Linked DNA regions of Homo sapiens: all the other regions are linked to region 1. The links come from fine-mapping of genetic effects on gene expression. A gene starts in region 1. Each other region holds a variant in brackets. All regions are shown on one strand. Distances are from middle to middle.

What was found. PIP is the estimated chance that this variant, and not a neighbour inherited with it, causes the effect.
Region 2: its variant is fine-mapped to the expression of LMBR1 in whole blood (INTERVAL, PIP above 0.99).
Region 3: its variant is fine-mapped to the expression of LMBR1 in blood mononuclear cells (TOPMed, PIP above 0.99).
Region 4: its variant is fine-mapped to the expression of LMBR1 in esophagus mucosa (GTEx, PIP above 0.99).
Region 5: its variant is fine-mapped to the expression of LMBR1 in whole blood (INTERVAL, PIP 0.96).

Annotation. Positions count from the first base shown.
Region 1 is chr7:156,890,286-156,896,352 of GRCh38, forward strand. LMBR1 (limb development membrane protein 1) reads right to left here and starts at 2,898. Exons shown (of 17, transcript NM_022458.4): 1 at 2,643-2,898. The coding sequence starts at 2,708. LOC102723795 (a long non-coding RNA gene) reads left to right here and starts at 3,113. Exons shown (of 4, transcript XR_928253.3): 1 at 3,113-3,378; 2 at 5,147-5,227. RefSeq lists silencers at 1,990-2,489, 2,540-3,119 and an enhancer at 5,422-5,501.
Region 2 is chr7:156,767,114-156,773,180 of GRCh38, forward strand. All of the region lies in intron 5 of LMBR1 (limb development membrane protein 1), which reads right to left. Among named protein-coding and RNA genes, the nearest start is that of RNF32-AS1, 110 kb to the left of the region's middle. RefSeq lists an enhancer at 1-1,044. The variant T/C (reference allele first, on the strand shown) is at 2,415.
Region 3 is chr7:156,800,098-156,806,164 of GRCh38, forward strand. The region is part of intron 4 of LMBR1 (limb development membrane protein 1); the gene reads right to left. Among named protein-coding and RNA genes, the nearest start is that of LMBR1, 90 kb to the right of the region's middle. The variant CCT/C (reference allele first, on the strand shown) is at 2,691.
Region 4 is chr7:156,847,851-156,853,917 of GRCh38, forward strand. All of the region lies in intron 1 of LMBR1 (limb development membrane protein 1), which reads right to left. Among named protein-coding and RNA genes, the nearest start is that of LMBR1, 42 kb to the right of the region's middle. The variant G/A (reference allele first, on the strand shown) is at 2,616.
Region 5 is chr7:156,671,641-156,677,707 of GRCh38, forward strand. RNF32 (ring finger protein 32) reads left to right here. Exons shown (of 9, transcript NM_030936.4): 8 at 4,056-4,223; 9 at 4,779-5,490. The coding sequence ends at 5,015. It also overlaps a transcript of LMBR1 not described here. Among named protein-coding and RNA genes, the nearest start is that of RNF32-AS1, 15 kb to the left of the region's middle. The variant G/A (reference allele first, on the strand shown) is at 2,891.

The DNA of each region.
Region 1 (6,067 bases):
TTCTTAATCGGGACATTAAAAGTACTCAAAAAAATTTTAATAAATTGAACTATATTAAAATTAATAATTTCTGTTCATCAGAAGATATCATTAAAAGTGAAAGGCATCCACAGAGTGGGAAAGAAATATGTGCAGTATATATTTCTGACAAAGAAATCATATCCACCTGTATAACAATATAATACAAGTTATTCTGTAAAGACCTTGCAAATCAATATTAAAAAGATAAACTTAATTTTTAAATGGGGAAAAAAATTTGACCCTTCACAAGATTTCCAAATGGCTAATAAACAAACAGGTGCTCAAATTCATTAGTTATCAGGAAAATGCAAATTAAAATTATTTGTATGATGAACACTATAACACACTTGCTAGAATGACTAAAATTAAAAAGGACAGAAAATATCAAGTATTGATAAAGATGAGTAACAACCACACCTCTGAGACTGTCAGTACTGGCGGAAGTGTACACTGGTACAACCACTTTGGAAAATTGTTTTAAAGTATCTACTAAAGATGAACAAATGCACACTCTTTAACCTAGGGATTCCATTCCTAGGGCTATCCCCAACAGAAATGCACAAACATGTCCACCAAAAGCTATGTACAAAAAGTTCATAGCCAGCCCGGCGTGGTGGCTCATGCCTGTAATCCCAGCACTTTGGGAGGCCAAGGCAGGTGGATCACCTGAGGTCAGGAGTTCAAGGCCAGCCTGGCCAGCATGGAGAAACCCCGTCTCTAATAAAAATAGAAAAATTAGCTGGGTGTGGTGGTGTGTGCCTGTAATCCCAGCTATTCAGGAGGCTGAGGTAGGAGAATCACTTGAATCCCGGAGGCAGAGGTTGCAGTGAGCCGAGATTGTGCCACTGCACTCCAGCCTGGGAGACAGAGCGAGACTCCATCACAAAAAAAAAAAAAAAAAAAAAATATATATATATATATATATATACACACACACACACACACACACACACATATATACATACACATATATATACACATATATATATTCATAGCCAAAACCTAGAAACTACTGAAGTGCCCATCAACAGTAAAATGAAAAATAAATTGTGCTATAGTCACACAACTACTGCACCGAGAATGAATTATAACCACATACAACATGGAGAAATTTCACAAACATTGTACAAGAAACTGGACACAGAAGAGTATATACGGTAAGATTCCATTTACATAAAGTTCAAAACTAAGCAAAAACTAATCTATGATATTAGAAGCCAGGGCAACGTTTACCCTTGGTGGAGGAGAAAGTAATTGGAAGAGGGAAAGGAATCAGTCTCTGGGATCCTAGTAAAATTGTGTTTATTTATTTATTTTTTTATAATGGTAGAGATGGGGATTCACTATGTTGCCCAGGCTGACCAGTCTCAAACTCCTGGTGGATTCAGGAGTACACAGGCGTGTTTAGTATGAAATGATCTGAAGGGTACATGTATGATTACATGAACTTATCTCTGTGTATTTTAGCTTCAATTATAAAAATTACAACTAAATGTGTACCAAATTCCACTAACTCAAATTCCACCAGCTCAGACTTTATATGTCCTCTTTATTCAAAGTATGACTTCCAAAGTGATTCTCAATTTTCAAGATCAGTGAGTACACAAATTAGATAATTCTAAAGCAGAATTTTTTCACCTCAAACCAAGTGTGACTGAATCGTAGACAACTTAGGAGAGGCGTAAATATAAACATAAAAAATTGACATATTTTACAACAGTTATGAAAACACAGATAAACCCAATTACAATACATTCTAGAGCATCATGAAAAGATAAAAACATCAAAGTAGACTTTCCAAGGTCAAGTCCGCTTCCTGACTCCTGCCAACAGCACACATGGAACATGGGCCAAAAAAGAAGCTGCTTCCCTAAGAAGTTGCTTCCATAGCAAAATGGACTTTTGCTGAGGTCCTCACTCCCAAAAATAACCAATATTCTCATCCCAAACGGTAAGGTTTCGAACTCAACCCACGTGGGGGCTGGGGGAGATGAAAGAGGGATGGAAACGTGAGGCGCCAGGAGGGCAGGAGGTGTTGACCGGGACAAGGTAACCGGCCGGGTCCAAACGCGAGAGGCGGGCGGGCTCCGCGCAGCCCGGCCCTTCCCGGACCCGCCGGGCCCACCCAGGCTCTCCGGGACGCCTGCGCATCCACCTGCCTACCTGGCCTGGCGGCGGAGCGCGGGGGCGCGCACTGGCGGGGCCGCCGTCCACACCCCGAGGCGCGAGCCGCACACCCGCCCAGAGAGGAAGCCCCTGGGGTCCCAGAGCGCGGCGCGCACCGCAGCCCTCCCCGCGGGAAGGGAAGGGCAGCACCGAGGCCGCGGGGCGGGGGCGGGGTCGGGGCTCGAACGGAGGGAGCGCGAGGGGGCAGGGGAGGCAAGAGCGGAGCGGGGGGGCAGGCAGAGGAAGCGAAGGGGAGGGGAGGGGAGAGGAGAGGTGGGGAGGGAAGGGGAGGGGAGGGGAGAGGAGGGGTGGGGAGGGAGAGCGGCAGAGGCCGGGGCGGGAGGCGCGAGGCGAGGCCCGGAGGTGAGGGGTCCGGGGACCGGGGGCCCGGGGGCGGGGACGGAGGGCCCGGGCGGGCACGCGGGACTGTCAGGGCTGCCTCGGTCCCCACGCACCGTGGACTCCCGCACTTGGCTGTGGAAGTGCTGCTCCCGCGCCGACACCTCGTCCTGCCCTTCCATCCTCCTTCATGCCCGCCGCCGCGCCGCCCGCGTCCGCGTGCTCCGCCACACCATCGTCCGCCCGCCGCAGGGGCTCGGACAGCCGCGCCGGGGACCGGAGCCGGCACGGGCCCGCGAGCCGTGTTGGAACAGGTACCGCGACCACGACACCGGCCGTCGCCTCAGCAGCCTCAGACGAGCAGCTCTGACTAAGGGAGGGCGGGCGCCGCGCAGTCGGGGGCGGGGCGGGGGCGGGGCAGGGAGGGGAGGGGGCGGTGCAGGCATACGTCAGACGAAAGGCGCCGATGCGTCAGAAAAGCGCGCCTCGCGGTCTTCCGAGCTGCTGGGCCGGGAGGCGCTGAGGGGGCGGGGCCTTGAGGTCGCGGGGCGGGGCTCCGCCCACGCTCTCAGGGGCTACCCCAGTTAAGGAGGCGCTGTCCTGGCGTCGGATGGGGACGGGGAACGCGGCGAGGGCGCTGCGACCTCTGCCCACCTGGCCCGGCCGCAGTCTCGGAGTTCCTGTTCCTCACAGGAGCTAATTATTTATGACAGCTGCATGGTTCCCCTCCCCCAGTTACTCAGTGCTTGGCACTCGGCACCCCTTACTCAGCACTCAGTACCGCACTCGGCCTCAGGGGACCTGGGCAGAGGGAAGCAGGGAGTCTCCCGCGGAAACTCTTGCTCTGCCAAAGTAGGTTGAAAGGTCGGAAATCGGTGGTTTGGGGCCGGGCTTTGGGCGGAAACCCAGCTTCTCTGGGTCTGAGAAGGGTCTTGGGCTGCCCCACCTGGAAAACGCAGATAACCGAGCTCGCTAGACCCTTGCCAAGTCCTTCCGGTAGCTCGGTCACTAGGGTCAGTTTTATGACTCTCAGTGGACCCTAAACAGCACGTAATATATGTATTTTTCACCGCCAAATATATCAAACACAATAATTCACCCTCCGTTCCCTATTATCTTTCTTTTTGTTATAAAATTTGAATTTAAGGGAATGTTTATAATTTTACCTTAGGATTTATTTGGCTACGAGGAAGTCATTTAAATTGCTAGTGGCTGCGATTTTTGTTTTTGGCATCTTTGAGAATTCTTAGGAAGTGTGAAAATCTACAAATTGCTTTCAAATGTCATTTAGTTTTTGTTTTTGTTTTTTTTTTTTTTGAGACAGAGTTTCACTCTTGTCGCCCAGGCTGGAGTGCAATGGCGATCTCTGCTCACAACAACCTCTGCCTCTTGGGTTCAAGTGATTCTCCTGCCTCAGCCTCCCGAGTAGCTGGGATTACAGGCGCCCGCCACCACGCCCAGCTAATTTTTGTATTTTTAGTAGAGACGGGGTTTCACCACGTTGGCCAAGCTGTTCTTGAACTCCTGACCTCAGGTGATCCGCCCACCTCGTCCTCCCAAAGTGCTGGGATTACAGGCCTGAGCCACCGCGCCCGGCCGTTGTTTAGATTTTTATGAATCTAAATTTAACAGTCAATGAAGTTGTTGTAAAGTTCTTCAAAGACAAATATGTGGTAATTTAAACCTTGCCGTTTCTCTTCACAATTTTGAGTAGAGAAAATTTTTTCACAACTCAAACTTCTTATGGTGCTTGGCGAAGTTGGAGGCCCCGACACACGGTTTCTATGAGTTCACTATAGCTGAACATTGTGGTGGTGGGAGAACTTAGAGAACCTGAGGCTTGTTCTCAGCATGTGCCCTGCTGCCACAGGCTGATTGATCATAATCCAAGAACAACTGTCAACTGGTTAAATTCAACGTTCACCTTTATTTTTTAGAATGTCTTGGAGCCCTAAAGAACCTGGATAATTTCTGGGTTAATTCTCTCCAAATCAGAGGGCAAGCAGATTAGATTTTAAAGTGTATGGCATTTAAACACAGATTCCAGAAAGTGAATGCATGTAGTATTCCTCATCTTTTTAATGCAATACTCCAACCATCTAGACCTTTTGATTTTCTTTTATGCAATCATCCCTAGAGGTTTACCCACCACTGGTACTTGTAACACTTAACCCAGGGTAGTCAACTTCAACAATGGCCACGTACTCACCACTCCCTATACGCTCACCCTCTGCCATCTGGCTTTGTCCTTCCTCCCAGCAAGAAATGGACTCTACTTTCCAGCCCTGGAATCAGCCTGGCTGGGTGACCTGCTCTAGCCAGTGGGACATTGAAAAATACAAAACTATAGGAAAGTGCTTGTACATTAGGACTTGCCCTTTCTTACGGACCCTAGGGACCCTCAATGGCCACTGGCCACTGCATCATAAGCCCCAGCCCAGCTGAAGATAGGTGACCTGGTCACCTCCATCACCCCAGCCAACACCCTCTTTCCCACATCCCTAAACGCTGTTGTATAAGACCACATGGGCCATTGTAACGGCTTTGGCTTTTATTCTGGGAGAGGTTAGGAGCCACTGTGGGTTATTGACAGGTGTGATGTGATCTGACTGCTGCTCAGGGCCTGGACAGCAAATGAGGAAGACTTATTGCAGAAATTCAGAGCCTAGTGACCTGGACCAGGGTGGAGGCAGCAGAGGAGGTGAGAGGCGGTCGGTTTCTGAATGCATTTTGAAAGGAGGATTTCCTATCAGGATTTCCTATCACATGGGGATGTGGTCAGAAAAAGAGAAAGACAGGGAGGGCTCCAAGGCATCTGCCTTAGCAGCCAGAAGGACAGTTGCATCACCAAAGGGGGGGAAGGCTGCAGTTAGAACAAGTTTTGGAGAAAAGACACAGAGTTCTTAAAATGTGATGATGACACCTCCTGGCCACCAAGATATGCTGTGTGGATATGAAGTTTCATTTCATATCAGAAGAACATGGCTGGCAATAAACATTTAAAAATATGTTTCATCTCAACAATACCCAGGACATGCAAATTGAAACCTAAATGAAGTACCTTTTCACTTTCATTGGGTGGGCAAAATTCTTCTAATTTGACAATATTGAGTGTCACAAGAATGTGGAACAGTAGAAATTCTGTGCCACTGGAGGTCGTGTGAACCAATATGATATCTCTGTAAATAATTTGGCATTATCCAGTAAAGCTGAAGATAAGCAACTAGCAGTTGCACTCCTACCCATGTATCCTAGAAAAGCTCTTGAGCATGTACACCAAGAGATGTGAATGAGAATCCCCACAGCTGTGCCACTTGAACTAGCAGAAGTCTACAAATAGCCCAGCTGTCTATCCACGGTGGAATGGGTAAATAAACTGATATGTTCGTGGGACAGAATGCGATTCTGAAAAATTAGTGAACAATAGCTGCAAGCAGCAATACAGATGAATCTCTAAAACAAAGTGTTGACCAAAAGAAAGTACCAGAAGAAGACACACAGTGACTCCATTTAGGTAAAGTTCAAAACCACACAAAACAAT
Region 2 (6,067 bases), 120 kb before region 1:
AAAGATGATGGGGTAAAGTGGGGGTCTCCCTGTCCTTCAGGGGTGTAAAAGCCGTACAGACCCCCCTGAGCATGCAGGGGAACTTTAGGAAGCAGACGGACTCAAACTCACGGCTCTGCTGAGTACAGGAGCCCACGTCACCATCCTACCTGGTCCTTCACAAAGGACTGTGAAGTGACTGCACGGAATTGTTGGTGAACAATGACAAATTTTTTCTAAATAAAGAGAAATATAAATAACGATATATATAGTTATAAACTAAAATGCAATGCCAAAAAATATTTTTGAAAGATAAATCATTTAATAATTTTTTATTATCTTATACATTAAGAAGTGACATTCAGATGAGAAAAAAAGAGTTAAAGAAAAAATTCCATTTTAAATAGGGGTCATTTAAAACGATAATATTTCACTTTTTACTGACAGCAGAGAAATTAAAGTTAAATAATGCTACTAAAAACTTAAGGTTACCACTAATCTTACTAGTATCAAAATAATAAAACTAGTAACAGTAATAGTAACTAGTATCAAAAGTAATATTACTAAGATACTAGAAAACAGAACAAAAATGTAATAGTTAATATAGTAAAAAACAGAAAATCAAGTTTAGCAAAATATAAACATAACAAAATATATAAAATACGAAAACAGGAAATGATAAAAACCAAATATATCTACTATAACTATATATGCAAATTAGGTCAAAAAACACAATTAACTGTCTAAGACCTATCAAAACGAAAGTGATACTAAAAAAAGTGAAAATGATTAAAAATTATTGTTTAATTTTTTAAAAATGTACAGGAGTCTGGTTTAAATACAGAAGAATGCAAAACAAAAAACATTAAATGGGATAAAGTAGGACATTTCATATTGAAGAAATTTACTATCCACTATATTATTATGTTCTATTTCTTTAGATTAACTGGTGAGTACATAGCGCTTCATTGTTATTATTCTTTATACAATATTTAAATAAACAGAAAACGAGGCTGGGCACAGTGGCTCACACCTGTAATCCCAGCACTTTAGGAGGCCAAGGGGGATGGATCCCTTGAGGTCAGGAGTTCAAGACCAGCATGGTGAAAGCCCGTCTCTACTAAAAACACAAAGATTAGCTGTAATCCCAGCTACTTGGGAGGCTGAGGCAGGAGAATCGCTTGAACCTGGGAGGCGGAGGTTGCGTTGCAGTGAGCCAAGACTGCACCACTACACTCTAGCCTGGGCAACAGAGTGACTCGGTCTCAAAAAAAAACAAAAAAGTAAATAAATAAATACAACAGAAAACCTTTATTCATTATATTTAGCATGTTTATGCAAATTTGATAAGAAATTCATTTAGAATTTTAAAAATAAAAAATTCCTAAGTATGCCTCCATTGTGATGGGCTGCCACCACTCAGTGAATACCATCAGCTTCTGATGCAGCCAAAGGTCAGAGAGCCCAGCCTCGACATTAGGAGGGCTCAGGGGATTGAGGGCCTAACTGGGTGGTTTGGCTTCAGCAGTGGATTAGGAAATAGGGTTTCCCCCAGGAGGTATCTGCCACTTTTTCACATGAAACCTTGATACCAGGTAGCGCCAGGCAGGTTGAGCTCTGGAAGAGACCATTTTTATTTGGCTAGGAGGCCTGTTAAGCTTCTTCCATTTTACTGGACATGGAATCTAAATTGTTCCACCCCAGAAGAGGGATGCCAGGCTAGAGAGTCACATGGCCCCACAGGTTGGGTAATCCATTTCAACAAGAGCTGAGCAGCAGATTCACAGCTGTCCTTTCTCAGGAGTCCACTCGGAGGCAGTGGCAGGCAGGAGAGGCACCTGCTATTTTAGGAAATGGCCTCCTGGAGTATTTGTGAGCTATTAAGTCTCTCACAAAAGCTGAGATATTCGCTTCTCCTCCTGGGGCCCTATACTGTTTATATTGGGCCAAAGGGAAGGCACAGTCCCTGAGGCCAAGCTTGCATAGTATGATCATGTAAAACACGAATACCAATTTAATATAGAGTCAGCAGTGCAAGCTACATCACAGATGGAATAAGCCCAAACACCCTACTCAAAAAGTCACCTGATGCCAGGCTCAGTAGCTCACACCTGTAATCCCAGTGCTTCAGGAAGCTGAGGCACCACTCATTTCAGGACTGAGACTCCTTGACTCAGCAGCCACACCCATAATGCCTTCTGACTGGAGCTGGGGGCTTACTGCCCTGGTGTCATACCAACATTCCTTCGTCTTACAACAGGAGAGGAATGAACGACAGCCAAAGCACCATTCAGACTCATTACAGGTAGGAGTAATGTAATTACCAGGGGCCCTTCCTCCTCCGCCTCCCTCTCACCACTGAGTTGAGCACATCCACCACCAGATCTGAAGGTCTTTTCATATCACTAAACCTGGAATACAAGGTCCTTGTTCTT[T/C]CTCTGCACCATCCAATCTCATTGCCAAAACTGTCAGGTCTGGGGTCTGGTTCTATCCTTACAAATTAATAAGTTAGCCTGTTGCTGTTACATGGATGCTGGCAGGAGACACAAGACTCCTGGATCAGAAGCAAAGGATTTTATTACTCCGGTACAGCAAGAGGCATGAGTGCCAGCAGGTCATTTCCCCTGCTCCCAAGTCTTATGGATGGATGTTGCATATGCGACAGATCTGTGCAGCAGCTAAAGAACAGTGAGCGTGGGGAATCCACTGTTTTCACAGCACGTGGTAATAAGCCAGGCTGCTCTGTGGCCCAGAGGGAGCCATCACTTCATCCCTCAAGTTTGCTCAGAAGAAACACAACCCTAACAAATGGCCCAGGTAAAGAGCAGTCAAGACCTCACAGTCTTGGCACACCCAGAAAGAAAACGCAGGAATGCTTACGGCCCATGCAGACCGCCTCTCCTGACACACCACTCTATCAGTCTGTGACTGCCCAAGAATGAAAAAATATTAACAATGATACACAGAATCTGAAAAATAATAACAAGGTTGACTTAATAAACCTAAAGTAATCCCTTATAGGGAATATACCTCTATTTCAATCACTAAAGGAAAATTTACAAAAATGAATTTGAAATTAAACTACAAAAAGTATGTCTATCTTTTTTTTTAAGATGAGATCTCACTATGTTTCCCAGGCTGGTCTCTAACTCCTAGGCTCAAGTGATCCTCCCATCTCAGCCCCCTGAGTAGCTGGGATTACAAGTGCGCACCACCCTGCCCAACAAAATATATCAAGTTCTAAACTGCATCAGAACTACTGCATTAACAACAGAGAATAAGTCAAAATATCTGAATGCAAAAAATTAACAACAAAGCTTAAATTAAAATACACTAATGCAATCATAGGCCAACTAAAAAGTAACAAAACAAGAATACTTTATAAAAACATAAAGTGTAGAAAATCTGTATTCAGATGCTCAAATAAATGAGTTTTATTATGAAAGAAAAAATAAAAATAAAAATGAAGCACTCAACTCAAGAATTTGTAAAAGGAACAACAAAATAAATCCTAGCAAACCACAATACAGGAAGAAATAGGCCAGGCACGATGGCTCATGCTTGTAATCCTAGTACTTTTAAAGGGGGAGGCAGGAGGATCATTTGAGCCCAGAAGTTCAAGACCAGCCTGGGCAACATAGCAAGACCTTATCTCTAACAAAAATTTTAAAATGAGATGGGCATGGAAGCACACACCTGTAGTCCCAGCTACTTGGGAGGCTGAAGTGGGAAGATCACTTGAGCCCAGGAGTTTGAGGTTACAGTGAGCTATGATCGCGCTAGTGCACTCTAACCTGGGCAACAGAGTGAAATCCTGTCTCAGAAACAAATAAATAAAACAAAATACAACAGGAAATTAAAGTAAGTATAATAAAAAAGAGCAAAAAAGTAGGAAAAAATAAATCGAAGAATTCAGAATTCAAAAGAATTCTGATAAATGTCTGGCTAGAAAAATCAACAAAATAAAGTAGCAAAAACACATTAGAAATATGAAAAAAATGTAATCAAGACATAAGATTTTAAAAAGAATACCAAGTATAACTGTCAATAAATGGGAAAACAAACGACTTGAGGAACTAGAAAAACAAGAGCAAACCAACCCCAAAGCTACCAGAAGACAAGAAATAACCAAAATCAGAGCTGTTCTGAATGAAATAGAGACACGAAAAACCATATGAAAGATCAATGAAACCAGGAGTTGATTCTTTGAAAGAAAAAATAAGGTAGATAGACTGCTAGCTAGACTAATAAAGATAAAAAGAAGATCCAAATAATCACAATCAGAAGTGACAAAGACGGCATTACCACTGACCCCACAGAAATACAAAAAACCATCAGGGACTATTATGAACACTTTCATGCATACAAACTAGAAAACTTAGCAGAAATGGATAAACATACAAACATTCCGGGAAACATACAGCCTCCCAAGACTGAACCAGGAAGAAATTCAAACCCTGAACAGATGAATAATGAGTTCTGAAACCGAGTCTGTAATAAAAAGCCAACTGACTAGAAAACGCTCAGGATCAGATAAATTCATGACCGAATCCTATCAAATATTTAAAGAACAGCTGGTACCATTCCTACTGAAACTATTCCAAAAATTTAAAAATAAAGGACACCTCCCTAACTCATTCTATGAGGCCAGCATCATTCTGATACCAAAACCTGGCTAAGACACAAAAAGAAAAAGAAAACTTCACACCAATATTCTTGATAAACACAGATGCAAAATCCTCAACAAAATACTAGCAAACCAAATCCAGCAGCACATCAAAAAGCTAATCCACCATGATCAAGTAGGCTTTATCCCTGGGATGGAAGGTTGGTTCAACACACTCAAATCAATAAATGTGATTCATCAAATAAACAAAACTAAAAACAAAAACCACATGATCAGCCAGGCGTGGTGGCTCATGTCTGTAATCCCAGCACTTTGGGAGGCTGAGGCAGGTGGATCATGAGGTCAGGGGTTCAAGACCAGCCTGACCAACATGGTGAAACCCCGTCTCTACTAAAAATACAAAAATTAGCCAGGCATGGTAGCGCAAGCCTGTAATCCCAGCTACTCAGAAGGCTGAGGCAGGAGAATCACTTGAACCTGGGAGGCAGAGGTTGCAGTGAGCCAAGATCGTACCACTGCACTCCAGCCTGGGTGACAGAGCGAGACTCCATCTCAAAAAGAAAACCACATGATCATCTCAACGGATGCAGAAAAAGCTTTCTATAAAATTCAACATCCCTTCATGTTAAAAACTCTCAACAAACTAGGCTTTGAAGGAACATATGTGAAAATAATAAGAGCCATCTTTGACAAACCCACAGCCAACATCATATGGAACAGGCAAAAGCTGGAAGCATAGCCCCTTGAGAACCGTAACAAGACAAGGATGCCCATTCTCACCACTCCTATTCAGCATATTACTGGGAAGTCCTGGCCAGAGCAATCTGGCAAGAGAAAGAAATAAAAGGCTGGGTGTGGTGGCTCGCACCTGTAATCCCAACACTTTGGGAGGCCGAGCTGGGTGGATCACCTGAGGTCAGGCATTTGAGACCAGCCTGACCAACACAGTGAAATCCTGCATCTACTAAAAATAAAAAAATTAGCTGGGCGTGGTGGCAGGCACCTGTAGTCCCAACTACTAGGGAGACTGAGGCAGGAGAATAGCTTGAACCCGGGAGGCAGAGGTTGCAGCAAGCCGAGATTGTGCCACTGCACTTCGGCCTGGACGACAAAAAACGAAAAGAGAAGAGAGGAGAGGAGGGGAGGGGAGGGGAAGGGAGGGGAGAGGAGAGGCATTCATATAGGAAGAGGAAGTCAAATTATCTCTGTTTGCAGATGATATAATTTCATATCTAGAAAATCCCATAGTGTCTGCTCAAAAGCTGCTGGATCTAATAAGCAATGCCAGCAAAGTTTCAGGATATAAAATCCATGTACAAAAATCAGTAGCACTTCTATAGACCAATAACATCCAAGAATGGCCACAAAAAAATGAAACAAAATAAAATAAAATAAAATAAAAACCTAGAAATACAGCTAGTCAGGGAGGTGAAAGGTCTCTACAAGAATTAAAAAACACTG
Region 3 (6,067 bases), 90 kb before region 1:
TAGCAAGTTCTCCAGAAGATCTGGCTAAGACCATCAATGAAAGTGGCTGCACAAAACAACAGATTTTCAAGGTAGACAAAAACAGCCTTACACTGGAAGAAGACGCCATCTAGGACTTGCATAGCCAGAGACAAGTTCAATGTCTGGCTTCAAAGCTTCAATCAACAGGCTGACTCACTTGTTAGGGGCAAATACAGAAAGTGACTTTAAGTTGAAGCCAGTGCTCATTCACCATTCCAGAAATCCTAAAACCCTTAAGAATTATCCTAAGCCCATTCTGCCTGTGGTCTATAAACAAGAACAACAAACCTGCCCGGATGGCAGCACATCTGTTTACAGCATGGTTTACTAAATAGTTTAAGCCTACTGTTAAGACTTGCTACTCAAAAAAAAAAAAAAAAAAGATTTTCAAAATACTACTGCTCATTGACAATGCACCTGCTGATGGAGATGAAAGAGCCCTGGTGGAGATGTTTAAAAAGATCAATATTTTCATGCCTTAACACAACATCCATTCTGTAGCCCATGGATCAAGGAGTAATTCTGACTTTCAAGTCATATTATTTAAGATACATTCTGTAAGGCTATACCTGCTACAGATTCCTCTGATGGATTGTGCAAAGTAAACTGAAAACCTTCTGGAAAGGATGCACCATTCTAGATGCCATTAAGAATATCTGTGATTCATGGGAGGTCAAAATATCAACCTCACCTGGAGTTTGGAAGTGATGGGTTTGAGATGTCAGTGGAGAAAGTCTCTGCAGATGTGGTAAAAATAGCAAGAGGACTGGAATTAGAGGTGGATCCTGAAGATGTGACTGAATTGCTGCAATCTCATGATAAAACTTGAAATGAACGAGGAGCTGCTTCTTAGGGATGAACAAAGAAAGTGGTTTCTTGAGATGGAATCTACCCTGGTGAAGATGCTGTGAACATTGTGGAAATGACAATAAAGGACTTAGAATATCATAAACTTAGTTGATAAAACAGAGGCAGGGTTTGAGAGGATGGACTTCAATTTTGAAAGAACTTCTACTGTGAGTAAAATGCTGTCAAACAGCATCACATGCTACACAGAAATCTTTTGTGAAAGGAAGAGTCAATCAATATGGCAAACTACACTGTTGTCTTATTTTAAGAAATTGCCACGGTCACGCAACCTTTAGCAAAATCAAGGCAAGACCTCCACCAGCAAAAAGATTACAGCTCACTAAAGGCTCAGATAATTGTTACCATTTTTTAGCAATAAAGGCATGTACACACATTGCTATTGCACACTTAATAAATGGCATTATAGTGTTAAGTATAATTTTTATATGCTCTGAGAAATCAAAAAATTTGTGTGATTCACTTTATTGCCACATTCGCTTCATCACAGTACACTGGAACCAACCCTGCAGTATCTCCAAGGTATGCCTGTCACTGTTAGGTATGTAACATAGTAGGCATTGTTCTGGATACGTTAAGATGCTATCTTTTTTTCTGAGACAGTGGTGTGATCATGGCTCACTGCAGCCTTGACTTCCCAGACTCAGGTGATCCTCCCGCCTCAGCCTACCAAGTAGCTGAGACTATAGGCACATGCCACCGTGCCAGGCTGATTTTTGTATTTTTTGTAGAGATGAGGTTTCACCATGTTGTCCAGTCTGGTCTCAAACTCCTGGGCTCAAGCGATCCACTCACCTCAGCCTCCCAAAGTGCTGGGATTACAGATGTGAGCCACTGCACTCAGCCAGCTACCACCTTAATATTTTATGAGGGAAGGTCCCCCGTTTTACAGACGGACTTCAGGTTCAGAAACGTGCCCTTGTCCCAGAGCAAGAAAAACTTAAGCTATTCCTTCTAATATGCTGTAATGTTTTTAGGCAACATAAATTCCACCATTTCCTAACCTTTTTTTTTTCAGATGGAGTCTCACTCTGTTGCCCAGGCTGGAGTGCAATGGCGCAATCTCGGCTCACCGCAATCTCCGCCTCCCGGGTTCAAGCGATTCTCCTGCCTCAGCCTCCTGAGTAGCTGGGATAACAGGCACGCGCCACTGCGCCAGGCTAATTTTTGTATTTTCAGTGGAGACGGAGTTTCACCATGTTGGCTGGGCTGCTCTTGAACCCCTGACCTCAGGTGATCCACTCGCTTCGGCCTTCCAAAGTGCTGGGATTACAGGCATGGGCCACCACGCCTGGCCCCTAAACTTCTTATATTCTTTAGAGATGCTTGCAAATGTATGATTACAAATCTCTAGATCAAAGGTCCATGAGGCATGAATATATTTCTACACCTCATTTTTTATTTCCCAATGCCTGCTACAGTGCTGAGTAATCAATAAAAATGAGTTCCATAAACAAACAATATTACAATCCATATAGCTAAATGTTAACAGGAAAAGACTCTCTCAGGAAAAAGGTCACAGGCTGAACTAAAGAAGTAGTCTCAGAATTAATTCTCAATTGTCAGTACAAAATGAACAAAATTATAACATATACAAATATAAGAAATATTAATTTTTAACAGCTTTATTGAACTACATAAAATAAGCTACACATGGAGTATATAATTTGATAAGTTTTGTCATGAGAATGCACCAATGACACCATCACCACAATTAAGCTAATGAACATAAACACATCCATCACCCCCAAATTTTCTCATATCCTTTTATAATCCCTGCCCCCTGCCACTCCCCACCTCCC[CCT/C]GATTCCCAGTCAGCCACTGACTCTGCACTTTAGAAAAGAACTCAGAAATAATGCCGCATGTCTACAACTATCTGATCTTTGACAAACCTGACAAAAACAAGAAATGGGGAAAGGATTCCCTATTTAATAAATGGTGCTGGGAGAACTGGCTAGTCATATGTAGAAAGCTGAAACTGGATCCCTTCCTTACACTTTATACAAAAATTAATTCAAGATGGATTAAAGACTTACATGTTAGACCTAAAACCATAAAAACCCTAGAAGAAACCCTAGGCATTACCATTCAGGACATAGGCATGGGCAAGGACTTCATGTCTAAAACACCAAAAGCAATGGCAACAAAAGCCAAAATTGACAAATGGGATCTAATTAAACTCAAGAGCTTCTGCACAGCAAAAGAAACCACCATCAGAGTGAACAGGCAACTTACAAAATGGGAGAAAATTTTTGCAACTTACTCATCTGACAAAGGGCTAATATCCAGAATCTACAATGAACTCAAACAAATTTACAGGAAAAAAACAAACAACCCCATCAAAAAGTGGGCGAAGGATATGAACAGACACTTCTCAAAAGAAGACATTTATGCAGCCAAAAAACACATGAAAAAATGCTCATCATCACTGGCCATCAGAGAAATGCAAATCAAAACCACAATGAGACACCATCTCACACCAGTTAGAATGGCGATCATTAAAAAGTCAGGAAACAACAGGTGCTGGAGAGGATGTGGAGAAATAGGAACACTTTTGCACTGTTGGTGGGACTGTCAACCCTTGTGGAAGTCAGTGTGGCGATTCCTCAAGGATCTAGAACTAGAAATGCCATTTGACCCAGCCATCCCATTACTAGGTATATACCCAAAGGATTATAAATCATGCTGCTATAAAGACACATGCACACGTATGTTTATTGTGGCACTATTCACAATAGAAAAGACTTGGAACCAACCCAAATATCCAACAATGATAGACTGGATTAAGAAAATGTGGCACATATACACCATGGAATACTATGCAGCCATAAAAAAGGATGAGTTCATGTCCTTTGTAGGGACATGGATGAAACTGGAACCCATCATTCTCAGCAAACTATCGCAAGGACAAAAAACCAAACACCGCATGTTCTCACTCATAGGTGGGAATTGAACAATGAGAACACATGGACACAGGAAGGGGAATATCACACACCGGGGACTGTTGTGGGGTGGGGGGAGGGGGGAGGGATAGCATTAGGAGATATACCTAATGCTAAATGAGGAGATGATGGGTGCAGCACACCAACATGGCACATGTATACATATGTAACAAGCCTGCACGTTGTGCACATGTAACCTAAAACTTAAAGTAGAATAATAATAAAATAAAATAAAAAAAAGATGGATTTTCTAGAACATTATACAAATGGATTGTGTGATATATACTCTTGTTTTTGTCTGGCTTCTGTTATCTAGCACAACTATTTTGAGATTAGATTGAATCGCTATTGGACTGCATCCATTCACCTGCAAACAATCTATGTTGTTCCCAATTTGTGGCTATTAAAAATAAAATAGTCATAAATGCTCATGTACAAGTCTGTGTAGACCTATGCGATCATTTCTTTTGGGAAATACATAGGTCATATGGTAGATACCTGTTTAACATTTTAAGAAACTGCCAAAATGTTTTCCAAAGTGGTTGTATTTTACAGTCTCTCACCAGCAGAGATCAAGTTCATCCACATTTTCACTAAAAATAATATTTTAACCATTCTGGCAGGTACACAGGAATATCTTATTGCTGTTTTAATTCCCATTTATCTAATAAATAATGATGTGAACATCTGTTCATGAGCTTATTTGCCATCTATTCATGTCTTTTTTAGCTAAGTATCTCTTCAAATCTGTTGCCCATTTTTTCATTTTTTTTTAATTACTGAGTTTGACAAGTTCTTTATGGGCTCTGAATACAACTCCTTTATAAGGTATGTGATTTGTCAATATTTTCTCCCAGTCTGTAGACTCTCTTTATTCTCTTAACAGTATCTTTAAAGAACAAAATTTATTAGAAGTCCAATTTATCCATTTTTTTCTTTTATGGATTGTGCTTTCGCTATCCTACCTAAAAAATTATGGCCTAGTTCAATGTTACAAAGACTTTCTCCTACATTTTCTTCTACAAGTTTCATAGTTTTAGGATTTACATTTAAGTCGATGATCCCTTGAGTTACAGTTTGCGAATGGTGCCAGGTATGGACTGAAGTTCATTTTTTGCCTATAATTAAAAAATTGTTCTAGCACCATTTGTTTAAAAAAAAATCATCTTCCCACTAAATTCCCTTGGCACCTTTGTCAAAAATCAATTGACAATATATGTATGTATCTAATCCTGGACAGTCTATTCTGCTGATTTGATCTGTTTATCTTTATGCTAACATCATGCACTTTTTTTTTTTTTTTTTTTTGAGACAAAGTCTTGCTCTGTCATCCAGGCTGGAGTGCAGTGGCACGTCTCGGCTCACTGCAACCTCCGCCTCCCAGGTTCAAGCGATTCTCCTGCCTCAGACTCCCAAGTAGCTGGGATTACAGGTGCATGCACCACACCAGGCTAATTTTTGTATTTTTAGTAGACACAGGGTTTCACCATGTTGGTCAGGCTTGTCTCGAACTCCTGACCTCAAGTGATCTGCCTGCCTTGGCCTCCCAAAGCGCTGGGATTACAGGCATAAGCCACCGTGCCCAGCCACACCACACAGTCTTGATTACTGTAGCTTTAAAAGAGTCTTTAGGTCAGATGGTCAATCCTCTAACTTTGTTATCTTTCAAAGTTGTTTAGGCTATTCTAAGTCCATAGAATTTGCATCCGAATTTTAGATCAGCTTGTCAATTTCTACAAAGTATGCTGGAATCTTGACAGGCATGGTGTTGAATCTCTATCAATTTGAAGAGAGCTGACCTCTTAATATTGCTGTTACAGACTGAATGCTTCTGTCCCCACCCCCAAATTCATAACTGAAACCCTAATCCTCAGTGTGATGGTCGTTAGAGACAGGAGCCCTTGGGGGTAGTTAGGTCACAAGAGGGCAATCCTCATGATGGGATGGTGCCCCTATAGGAGGAGACAGAAGAGAGTTTGCTTTCTCTGTCTCTGCTCTCAGCCATGGAAGGATGCGAGGAGACAACCATCCGTGAGCCAAGAATAGGGTCCTCATCAAGAACCCAACCATGGTGGCACCCTGATATGGGACTTTCAGCCTCCAGAACTGTAAAAAATATTTGTTTTGTATTGTAAGCCACCCAGTCTATGGTATTGTTATAGCAGCCCAAACTGATAAAGTGTCTTCGAATCCATGAACACAGTATCTGTCTCCACTTATTGTGGTACTCTTTAATT
Region 4 (6,067 bases), 42 kb before region 1:
TTGGCAGTTTCTTACAAAACTAAAAACACTCTTACCATATGATTCAGCAATCCCGTTAGATTTGGTATTTACCCAAAAAAGTTGAAAACTATCCACACAAGAACTTGCACAGGAATGTTTATAGCAGCTCTTTTCATAATTGCCAAAACTTGGAAGGAATCAAGATATCCTTCAATAGGTAAATAACTAAAATGTAGAAGATCATTCAACACTAAAAAAAAAAAAATGCAAAAGATGGAGTAAAGACTTAAATGTAAAACCTAAAACTATAGAACTCTGGAAGAAAACCTAGGAAATACCATTCTGGACACAGGCCCTGACAAAGACTTCATGACAAAGACACTAAAAGCAACTGCAACAAAAACAAAAATTGACAAATGGGAATCTAATTAAACTAAACAGCTTCTGTACAACTAAAGAAATATCAACCGTAAATGACAACCTACAGAATAGGAGAAAACATTTGCAAACTATGCATCTGACAAAGGTCTAATAAAAGCAACCCCACTAAAAAGTGGGCACAGGACAAGAAAAGACACTTTTCAAAAGAAGACATACATGCAGCCAACAAGCATATGAAAAAATGCTCAGCATTATTAATCATTAGAGAAATGCAAATCAAAATCACATCTCACACCAAGTCAGAGTGGCTATTATTAAAAAGTCAAAAAATAACAGATGCTGGTGAGGTTGCAGAGAAAAGGGAATGCTTATAAACTGGCTAGTGGAACTGTCAATTAGTTCAGTCACTGTGGAAAGCAGTGTGGCAATTTCTCAAACCATTTAAAAGAGAAATACTGGCTGGGCATGGTGACTCACCCCTGTAATCCCAGCACTTTGGGAGGCCAAGGTGGGTGGATCACTTGAAGTCAGGAGTTCTAGAACAACCTGGGATCATGGTGAAACCCCGTCTCTACTAAAAATACAAAGATTAGCTGGCTGTGGTGGCAGGAGCCTGTGGTCCCAGCTACTAGGGAAGCTCAAGTACAAGAATCACTTGAACCTGGGAGGCGGAGGCTGCAGTGAGCAGAGATCGTACCATGACACCGCAGCCTGGGCGACAAAGCAAGACTCTGTCTCAAAAAAAAAAAAAAAAGCAAAACAAAACAAAACAAAAACAGTACTACCATTTGACCCAGCAATCCAATTATTGGCTACAGACCCGAAGGAATATAAATCATTCTACCGTAAAGACACATACATGCATTATATTCTTCAGAGCACTATTCACAATAGCAAAGACATGGAATCAACCTAAATGACCATCAACAGTAGAATGGATAAAGAAAATGTGGTATGTACATACCATGGAATAGTATGCAGCCATAAAAGTGAATGAGATCATGTCCTTTGCAGCGACATGGATGGAGCTGGAGCTAGAGACCATTATCCTAAGTGAACTAACACAAGAACAGGAAACCAAATACCACATGTTCTCATTTATAAGAGGGGGCTAAATACTGAGAACACATGGACATAGGGAACAAGAGACATCAGGGTCTACTTGAGGATGGGAGGGAGAGGATGGAAAAACTACCAATCAGGTACTACGTTTCTTATCTGGGTGACAAAATAATCTGTACACCAAACCCCTGTGAAACATAGTAACAAACCTGTACATGTGCCCCTGAACCTAAATAAAAGTTAAAAATTAAAAGAGCTGTCAAAGCAATGAAAAGTCATGGAGGAAACTTAAATGCTTGCTGCTAAGTGAAAGAAGTCAATTTGAAATGGCAACATTTGTATGATTCCAACTATATTCCGGAAAAGGCAAAACAAAACTGTGGAGACACTAAAAGCATCAGTTGTTTGTTGCCAGGGGTTGAGGGGAGGAAGGAATGAACAGGCAGAGCTTAGAGAACTTTTAAGGACAGTGAAACTATTCTGTATGATTCTATAAGGTTAGATACATGTTCTTATAAAATTTTCCAAACCCATGGAATGTACACCACCAGAGTGAACACTAATGTAAACTATGGAATCTAAGTCATGATGTTCAACCCAAGGTCATCAACCATAACAAATTTTCCACTCTGGTGGGGGATGCTGATAATGGCCAAGGCTATGCATGTGTGGAGCCAAGGGATATATGGAAAAATCTCATTACCTTCACCCAATTTTGCTGTGAACCTAAAATTTCTCTAAAAAATAAAGTCTAATTTTAAAAAGTAATACGATTGCATTAGTGCTATGGTTTGTGTGTTTCCCAAAGTTCATGTATTTGAAACTTAATTCCCAATGCAACAGTGTTGAGGTGGGGCTTCAAAAGTGATCAGGTCATGAGGATTCTATCCTCATAAACTGACTAATGTTATCACAGGAGTGGGTTAGTTACGGTGAGAGCAGGTTTGTTATAAAAGCAAGTCTGGCCCCCTTCTTGCCCTTCTGCCTTCCACCATGGGATGATACAACACAAAGGCCCTTGCCAGATGCCAGCCCCTTGATCTTGGGCTTCCCAGCCTCCAGAATCATACACCAAATAAATTTCTGTTCATTATATATTATCCAGCCTGTGGTATTCTGTTTCAGTAGCACAAAACAGACTAAGACAGCTAGTAACAAATGTGTTTATTAAATTCAATGTCCTATATTCCTCCCACCCTGCTTAGACTCTT[G/A]TAACCACCAATCTACTTTCTGTTTTTATGTATTTGCCTATTCTGGGTATTTCATATAAATAAAATCATACAGTATGTGCCTTTTTGTGTCTGGCTTCTTTCACTTAGCGTAATGTTTTCAAGGTTCATCCATGCTGTAGCATGTAACAATAGTTCTTTCCTCCAGACATTTTATGAGAAAAACCTCTGTTTCATTAAAAACACATTGGGTATATTTTTGCTTGCAGCTGAAAGCATTCCTTTCAAATACAATTGTATACCCACACAAGGATGTATATATAAAGATGTTCACTTTTCTATTGTTTGTAATTGCAACAAATCACCCTTTGAAATGGTTTGGATGTGTGTCCCCTCAGAATTTCATGTTGAAGCGTGATCCCCACTGTTGGAGGTGAACCCTGGTGGAAGTGTTTGGATCATGGAGGCAGATCCCTCATGAATGGCTTGGTGCCCTCCCCTTGGTGATGAGTAAGTTCTATTAGTTCACACAGGATCTGGTTGTTTAAGGACTTTGGCACCTCCTTTCTCTCTCTTTATCCATTCCCTCTTGCTCCCTCTCGCCATATGACACCCGCCACTTCACCTTCTGTCATGATTGGAAGCTTTCTGAGGTCTTCAACAGAAGCAGATGCCGGCAATATGCTTCTCAAAGAGCCTGCAGAACTGTGTGCCAAAATAACTATCTTTTCCTTATAAATTACTCAGTCTCAGGTATTCCTTTACAGCAACGCAAAATGAACTAACACACCCTTCAAAACAGAGAAGTAAACAAAATTACCAATGCCCTATCTTCAGAACAATTAATTTGAATACAATACACATGCTGATACCTACTCTTCTCATAGTTGCTAAACTGTCATAATAAATTGCCCTGTGTCTTTCAACTTGTGCTTCAATAAAGGCAAAGCAATGCTTCCTCACAGAAAACACTAAGACCCTTAGCAAGGGGTAAATATTCACTTTTTCAAGATTATCACAGCATATTTCAAGTTCATTAATGTCATCAATAATATTATACTTTAATACAACATGCTGTGAAATATTTTAGGCCCAGTAACAAGAATGGACGACTATACACCAGATTACTCTTCCTACTGGTTTCTTGAGGAGATGGTAAAGTTGGGGGGCTGGGGAGTGAGGAGAGAAGAGGGTAGAAATAAGTCATGATTGTAAGCCAAAAACAATGGAGAGAGAAAAAGTAAAGATACTCGCACATAAAAACAGTAAACACATAGTGACTAATGTAAAATTATTTAAGTCGTATAGATATACATAGAGGTATGAAACAATGTGCTTATTTCAGAATGGTGGAATTTCAGATTATTTTTACCCTTTTACCTTCTTCCTTAGATCTATGAAAAAATTAAAGTTTTAACAATAAGGACTTTTATTTACACAGGATGAAAGTACTATTTTCAAAATGAACACAATAAAATTTATTCTAATAACCTTTCAGGAAAGCAATATGATGGCCTATGTATGCACTCTGATTCAATACTGTTATTCCTGGGAATTTATATTACAATAAAGAAACATTCCTCCACTTTTAGATAATTAGGTTACCATTACTACTACTAGCAACAAGAATCACAATAATAGCTGCCACTTGAGACTTTAAGAACACACCTCTAGGAACAAAGTAATATAACAAGTAATAAAGATTTCGGTCCAGGTCTCAAAAGGGTAACCAAGAGAATAACAAATAATAATATAACAATAAACACCAGAGGAAATGGGAAAAACAAAGTAGTGTGAATACTCACTACTGTAGTGTAAATCCTATCAGAAAGCTAGTAGTTAAATCCTCAGTGTCTGTATTGGGAAGTCAATATACGTGTTCAATGTTGGTAAGCCAACAAATATTACCAAGCATTACAGAAATCACTTAGAAAAACTAAAAAAAAATAAGAGATTGCTTATGGAAAATACTTGGATAGGAGCCTTATTCTTCTTAAGGTTTCCTGTACTATCTGATGGATAGCATGTTTCTATACTATCTGATGCATGCATTAGATTTAAAAAATTATAGGCTTCTACACCCCTGACACAATAATTTTCAAGTAATCCTTTAGAGATCTATCTATGATTCTCACTTGGAGTTTTACGTTATTTGGAAAAGTAACACCAAATAAAATCTTTACATTATTGCCTTTTGCTAAACAGGGTTGAGACCTATGATTCTCAACTGAGGGTGACAATGTCCCCCCCAGGAGACATGTTGCAATGTCTGGGGACAGTTTAGTTGTCACAACCAGGTGAATCGTGCTACTAGCATCTGGGGTCAGAGAACAGAGATGCTGTTAAAATCCCATGATGCACAGAACAGACCCGAACAATAAAGAACAATCTGTCCAGAATGTCAACAGTGCCAACGTTGAGAAACTCTGTTTTAGATTAACTGCCAAAAAAGTACAGAAGATAAGCACAGAAGTAATTACATATACAACATAACTTGAACAGTAAATTACAAATAATGCTTTTTTTTTTTTTTGAGACAGAGTCTCAATCTGTCGCCCAGGCTGGAGTGCAGTGGCCCGATCTCAGCTCATTGCAAGCTCTGCCTCCCAGGTTCAGGCCATTTTCCCGCCTCGGCCTCCCAAGTAGCTGGGACTACAGGCACCCGTCACCACACCCGGCTAATTTTTTGTATTTTTAGTAGAGACGGGATTTCACTGTGTTAGCCAGGATGGTCTCGATCTCCTGACCTCATGATCTGCCCGCCTTGGCCTCCCAAAGTGCTGGAATTACAGGCGTGAGCCACCGCACCCGGCCGAATAATGCTTCATTTTTTATTGTAAGTTGCCACAGTAGAAAATGTTAATACTAATTTCACTAATATATTGTAATAAGCACATTCCTTTCTCTTTTAAAAAAAAATGGGTCACATAAAGAAATATTAGCCAGATTAAGGGACAGATCATTCCAAACTACTTAATGTTAAAAGAAAAAAAAAAGCACTATCCCTTATGATCTCACACCCTGTGCTTTAGAAAGAAAAACATTTACACTAATTTTTGTCATGCCATCCAAAACTGTATTTAAAATTAAAAGTAAAATAGAACCACTTTCTAAAAGTCCTAGAATAACTTCTCTGGATTAAATCTATGCAGAAACTGGGTATCAAATGAAGATTCTCAAGCAGCTGCCAAATGATGAACCCAAAGGAAGTCACCACATAGAATAAAGCTTTTGTTTGTTTTTGTTTTTTGAGACAAAGTGTCATCCTGTCACTGAGACTGGAGTGCAGTGGCGTGATCTCAGCTCACTGCAACCTCCACTTCCTGGGTTCAAGGAATTCTCCCGCCTCAGCCTCCCAAGTAGCTGGGATTACAGGCACCTGCCACCACACCCGGCTAATTTTTGTATTTTTGGTAGAGATGGGGCTTCATCATGTTGGCCAGGCTGGTCCCGAACTCCTACCTCAGGTGATCCACCCACCTCAGCCTCCTAAA
Region 5 (6,067 bases), 220 kb before region 1:
CAGGACGCCGATGTTTGCGGTACAGGCGGTCCTGTCGCCCAGCTCATGAGCACAGTCCCCAACAGTTAGTTTTTCAGCCCGTGTCCCTCCCCAGTCGTCCTAGTATCTCATGTCACCATCTTTATGTCCACGTACTTGAAGAAACTTAAGTCGTGTAGAGTATGTTCCCTGACCACGGTGCAGCTGAGGCTAGAAATAAATTTTTTTTAAAAAAATAGAACTATCTCACGTTTGAAAATAAACGGTTCTAAATAACGTATTAATCGAAGACAAAATTATAATGGAAATGAGAAGAAATTTCAGTTGAATAGCAAAAGTACATATCAAAACTTGTGGAATGGAATATTTCATCAAAACTTGTGGAAAGGAATATTTGCGTCTGCCATGCTAGGTTTTCTTCTGTGGAATCAAACACCTGAGTGTGGAATTAGTTTGTGATTCTTATGTATATTAAAATATCCTAAGCATTTATTTGCTTTCTTGCTATATTACACCAGTTACCATTAAGACTGGAGCACTAAGTGTTAAGGGCCACCCTCCCTGAGATTTATTTGGTATATATGCAAAACTGACAAGTCTGTTTCTTTCAACAAGTGCCTACTATGGTCGGTGCGTGTACTGAGCTCTTGAGAGGGTTTAAAGGCAGGGTGTGACGACGACAGGTGCAAAACCCTTTAAAAACCCTGGATGCTATTACCAGCGTTAAGAACAGTCCTGGCCCCAGGACTAATAAAGGAGATAGGACCTGTATGCCACAGTGACTGAGGCAGAAGGAGGCAATAGGTGACATCAGTATTGGACCTCAGGGTCTTTGTCATCAATAGGGCCACTTAGGAGTCACCCAACACAGTTGTTCAGAGCATATGAGCTCTATTTCCATCTAAAGTGTTTGAAGGAAAATGTACTTTAAAAAGTCCTAATGATGCTGTCTTTGGAAGTTTATCTTGAGCTAAGTAACTCATTTATGTAACATCAGGACAGCTGGGATTGCTCCAGGCATCCTGTAGAGAGAGCGATACACTCACGTATGATAGAATATATGCACACACAGGTGACACTGTAACATAAATGCATATAGATGTACATACATATTTATATGTGGCCCGCACACTTACTCTGTTCCTCTCTCAAGTGGCTTCTGAAAGCGCACGCACAGCGATACCCATGCTTGGAGTTGGGAGGTGACACCTCCAGGAATGATAACTAATGCTGTGTTAAATAACTTTGCATATTTAAAAATGTGATCGGTAACTTCTATGACCGTGGTTCTTAAACCTGAATGGGCCTCAGAATCACCTGGAGGGCTGTAAAGCATATCGCAGGGCTCACCCCGCGGACTGTGGCCTCGGCAGGCCCGGGGCAAAGCCTGAAAAGCTCTGCTTTTCTCACAGATTCCCAGGAGCTGAGGCTGCGGGGTCTGGGCCCCACCTTGAGAATAAACACCCAGATCATATCGATCATTTCATTCAATTGATCAGTCATTCCAAATAGTACTTTTATGTCCAAAACTAATCTCAGAACATACCTCACAAGTTGAAACACTTTGCAAGGTCTGGACTAGAATGTGACCCTTTTTCTGAGGTATAATTTTGAAGGAAGAAAAGATCTTGCTTTTCAGGCATATGTGGAAAGTATCTCACACTTAAAAACAATTTACAGAAAACCTGAATTACAAAGCATCAATTGGAGGTAACTGTGTATATTTCCAAGTAATTTTTCCTTTTACAATGTATAGAGAACTCTTCTACTTTCAATAATTTATTTAGATATTATTAGATATTTGAAAGGCCAAGGAATAAAGAAAATTAAAATTAAAGCCTTAGGAAACGTTACCGATTCAAGACCCTAAATTAAGATACAGCTGCTTGGCAATTATAATTACATTCAGAGTGAAAGAGAATTTGACTCATAAATAGAAAAGCAGCTTCCACCAGGCTTCCAAGTACGGCTAATCCCAAAACACAGGTGCCTGGAAGATCCTCAGCCACCCCCTTCATTCAAACCCCAACCCTTGTGGACTGCCTGCTGTGTTCACAGAATGTTCTTTACTCAAAAGGACCTCTCATCCTTAAAGCCAATACTCATTCTTCTAACATCCCAGGGAGAAAGGCAGCTCATAGTCTCCACAGCACTCGACCCTGCGCTGTCTCACGATCTTTTTGCAGAAGGGAGAGAATTGGAAGAGAACTCCATGTCCTCAAAGGCACCTTCAGAAGTCTGGTGATTTAAATACACACTACGTTCTGCCAGGTTGCTCCACATTAATAAAAAAAAAAAAAAAAGAAAAAGTGAACGTGAGGACTCCAGTAGACTAGAATATTTGAAACCTGGACAGTCATGGACCATCCAAAATGCATTTTCCCCATCACATATCTAAATGTGTGAGATCTCCACGGGACTTGTTCATTTCATCCTTCTTTGTGCTTCAAGCCGGATTCCATGAAGCAGATGTAACTGCTGAATCGGCACTTCTCACTGCTGGACAAATAACCCCCCGAATTTCAGTGACTGAAAGCCAGAGCTTCGGTCTCATAGGACAGTTCAGGTGTCCTGGCTTGCAGGCAACATGCCAGCCTGTGGGGCTCGGGAACTGTCTCCCTCTGCCCTTTATCTGCCACCCCCCGGGCCTGGAGAACACCCAGAAGAGACATGAGCCACGTCCATCTGGAAGAACTACTTCACGTGGCCCCACCTGGGCATGGGGGAATGGGAAATGTCATCTCTGGGTGAGCCACAGCTCTGTACTTGAAAGGACAAGCAAGAGGGCAGGAAGTGTGGCTGACAGTCACCATTGGCACAACCTTTTACACACCTTATTCTCCTTTGCTTTACACTCTTCACATGTACTAAAAAGGAGCCGCTGGTGTGGCCCTGAATGAGCCACCTACCC[G/A]TGCCTCAGATGACACTGGTGGCCACTCTGTAATGACTCAGACCTTTCTAGTGTAGGATGGCTTGAGCCCGGGAGGCCGAGGCTGAGTGAGCATTGATGGCCCCAAGCACTCCAGTTTGGGTGACAGAGCGAGATGCTGTCTCCACCAAACCAAACAAAAATACCAAAAAAAACAAAGTACTGTATTCAATTAATAAACGTTGAAGTGATAATATTTTGGATCTGTTGGGTCAGATACAATATTAAAATTAATTTCACCTTTTAAAAAACTTAATGTGACTGCCAGAAATTTTAAAATTACATACGTAGCTCACAGTATGTTTCTATGGGACAGAGCTGATCCTGCGAAATTCGAACTTTTCTCTCAACTTTTAATTTCAAATGTGTTCCTGCTAATGGTCAAAGCTCACAACCAAGAAAACAGCAGGGGAGGGAAACAATATACCCTTTTCCCCTACCCTCCTAAATTCTTCAGCTGGAGCCCTGTAAGTTAAGCTTAACGAGAAAATTACACGGATTTACTTAGTAAGTCCCATGTGGTATGGAAGCCTTCCTAAGGCAGCGCAGACCGGAAGAGATAGTGCAGACCCGAAGAGGCAGCGGCGACCCGAAGGGGCAGCGGAGACCCGAAGAGACAGTAACGCCTGAGCGCTTTCTATGCTAGGTTGGATGAGGACACAGAGGTCGTGGGGAAGCATGACAGGACAAGGGGTGAGCTGAGGGTGGTCGGTGGGAACCACGGCAAGGCCTGTGTGCTGTCTCCTCCCGGCTCCCTCCGTCTTTGGAGACGAGGGTGCCTCTCACAGGAGGGTCCTGTGACCCACTTTAGGGGTGGGGAGAGGTCAGACGGTCCCTCCTGCAGCTGTCATTTCTCAAATTCCTTTGGGAAGGAATGTTTTTTCCTTAAAATATTCAGTATGCCAAGGTGCCGTATTTTGGGGTAGTGTGTTCTGGACTCCATCAGATAGGGGTTCTTGTGGTCATCTGTCCAGATTATCTGGATTTATAGTTAAGTAAAATAGACATATATCTATTTCCCTAAAAAGTATTATTCGAAGACAGAGACGAGGAAGGTTACCAAAATAGATGGTCAGGCTCGAGAGCGCTTCCCTGCAACCTCCACCGAGCTCAGGTGTGAGCTTACCCGCCCCCGCCTCCTCCTCAGTTCACAGAAATCAGCCACCGCATCCTGTGCTCATACAACACCAACATTGAAGAGCTCTTTGCAGAAATCGATCAGTGCTTGGCCATAAATCGAAGTGTTCTTCAGCAGTTGGAAGAAAAATGTGGCCATGAGATCACAGAAGAGGAATGGGAGAAAATCCAAGTGCAGGTAGGTTTGGCTGGCAGCCTGGCAACCAGCAGACTCAGCTGCAGCTGCAGAGGCTGTGGGGAGTGGCATGTGGGGGGAGGTCGAGGACTCACTTTGGGGAGCCTAGGAGTGTCAGGCCCGGGGTGCAGCCGTGGAGGCTGTGGGGGTGGCATGTCGGGGGAGGTCGAGGACTCACTTTGGGAAGCCTAGGAGTGTCAGTCCCGGGGTAACCGCTGCCCTAGCTGCCCCTGCACCTGTGGTAGGACTTTCCTCATGGGCTTTAGGGTGACGGCAAAGGTCCCTTCAGTTTGAAATTCTGGAAGTTCCTGTTGGATGTTGCTTATCACAGGTGGGTTACTAACCCTTTCCACAGTTCCCAGGAGTAACAGAGTATATGTGTGTGTATATATATATGTATATATATAAATAAAATGCATGTGATTTTAACACAGAATGAAACTTCCGCATGTTTCGAAGACCCATGTCTCGGGGCACATGGTTCGCATTTCAGTTTAAGTAACTTTCTGCTGTGATGAAACTAACCCGCGTGGCCTCTTCCCGTCCTGTGTGCCGCAGGCTCTGCGCCGGGAGACCCACGAGTGCTCCATCTGCCTGGCCCCTCTCTCCGCTGCTGGCGGTCAGCGCGTGGGTGCAGGCAGGCGTTCCAGAGAGATGGCCCTCCTGTCCTGCTCACATGTGTTCCACCATGCGTGTCTGCTGGCACTAGAGGAGTTCTCCGTGGGAGACAGGCCTCCTTTCCATGCCTGTCCTCTCTGCCGCTCCTGCTACCAGAAGAAGATTCTTGAATGTTGAATTCATAGTCAAGGAAAGTTAGGTAATTCTGAGGAAAAAAGTTTACCATCATTTTGGATGAACTGCATGAGTTCTGGGTTAAGTACTACAATGTAATCTGTTTCCCAGGGAAATAAGCTATTGGTAGTTGTAGGAAATCTTAGTATATTTTAAAAGCTGACATCCCACCTAATTTTAATCTTTGGTCTCTAAAAAGTAAATTTCAAATTTATGAGTTTAATCACTTCAAATATGAATAGCAAAAAATGAGAGCTTGCTTACTTCTAAAAATTGAGGTTAAGATATAGCTAGTGTCTGAACGACACTCCTTAAAGTAAGTTCCAAATGTAAAACACTCCTTAAGTTCCAAATGTTTTCCGCTAATAGTCTGTCCTAAAGCCTTTGCCATTCCTAATACTCGTTTTGTAATAATTGCTGTATTTCTGTGTAATAAAATATAAAAATAAAATATTCAGTGGTATTCAACATCAAAAAAGTGCAAATTTTAATGTCTTAGAGCAATAAAGACTGTTTTAGTTCACACATTTTAAAAAAAAGTGAACCTTTTTGGATAAGAATTGTTTTTGTCACTGGTTTACTATTACTGGGAGCTTGGTTATTTACAGTAACCAGTTACAGTCTCATCGGTTAGGTTACCCCTAGCCGAGTAACAGATAAAGCCCCAACTCTCAGTGGCTCGCTGAAGACACATGATTTCTGAGGTGTCCAACCCATGTCAGCCATGGGTGAGGCAGGGCGAGGGTACACCATGTGTGACCCTGGCTCCTTTTGTCTTGTGACACAGTCTCCTTTGCCCCCGAGTCCCCAGTGAATCCTGTCACTGCTGGTGGAGGGGCAGGAGGACATTGTTCCAGGCCATGCTTGGGAGTGGCGCTCATCACTCCAGCCACAGTAACTACAAGGGGCAAGGAAAGGGCAGGGTGTAGGCCTAAGAGGAAGAGGCCAAGTGGGTGTGCACATGGCATGGGCTCAGAATAACCCAGCATCTAATGTGAGAAGAAATGCCAAAATTTCTATTTATTCTTATCTCATCCCTTAGAAAAAATACTCTC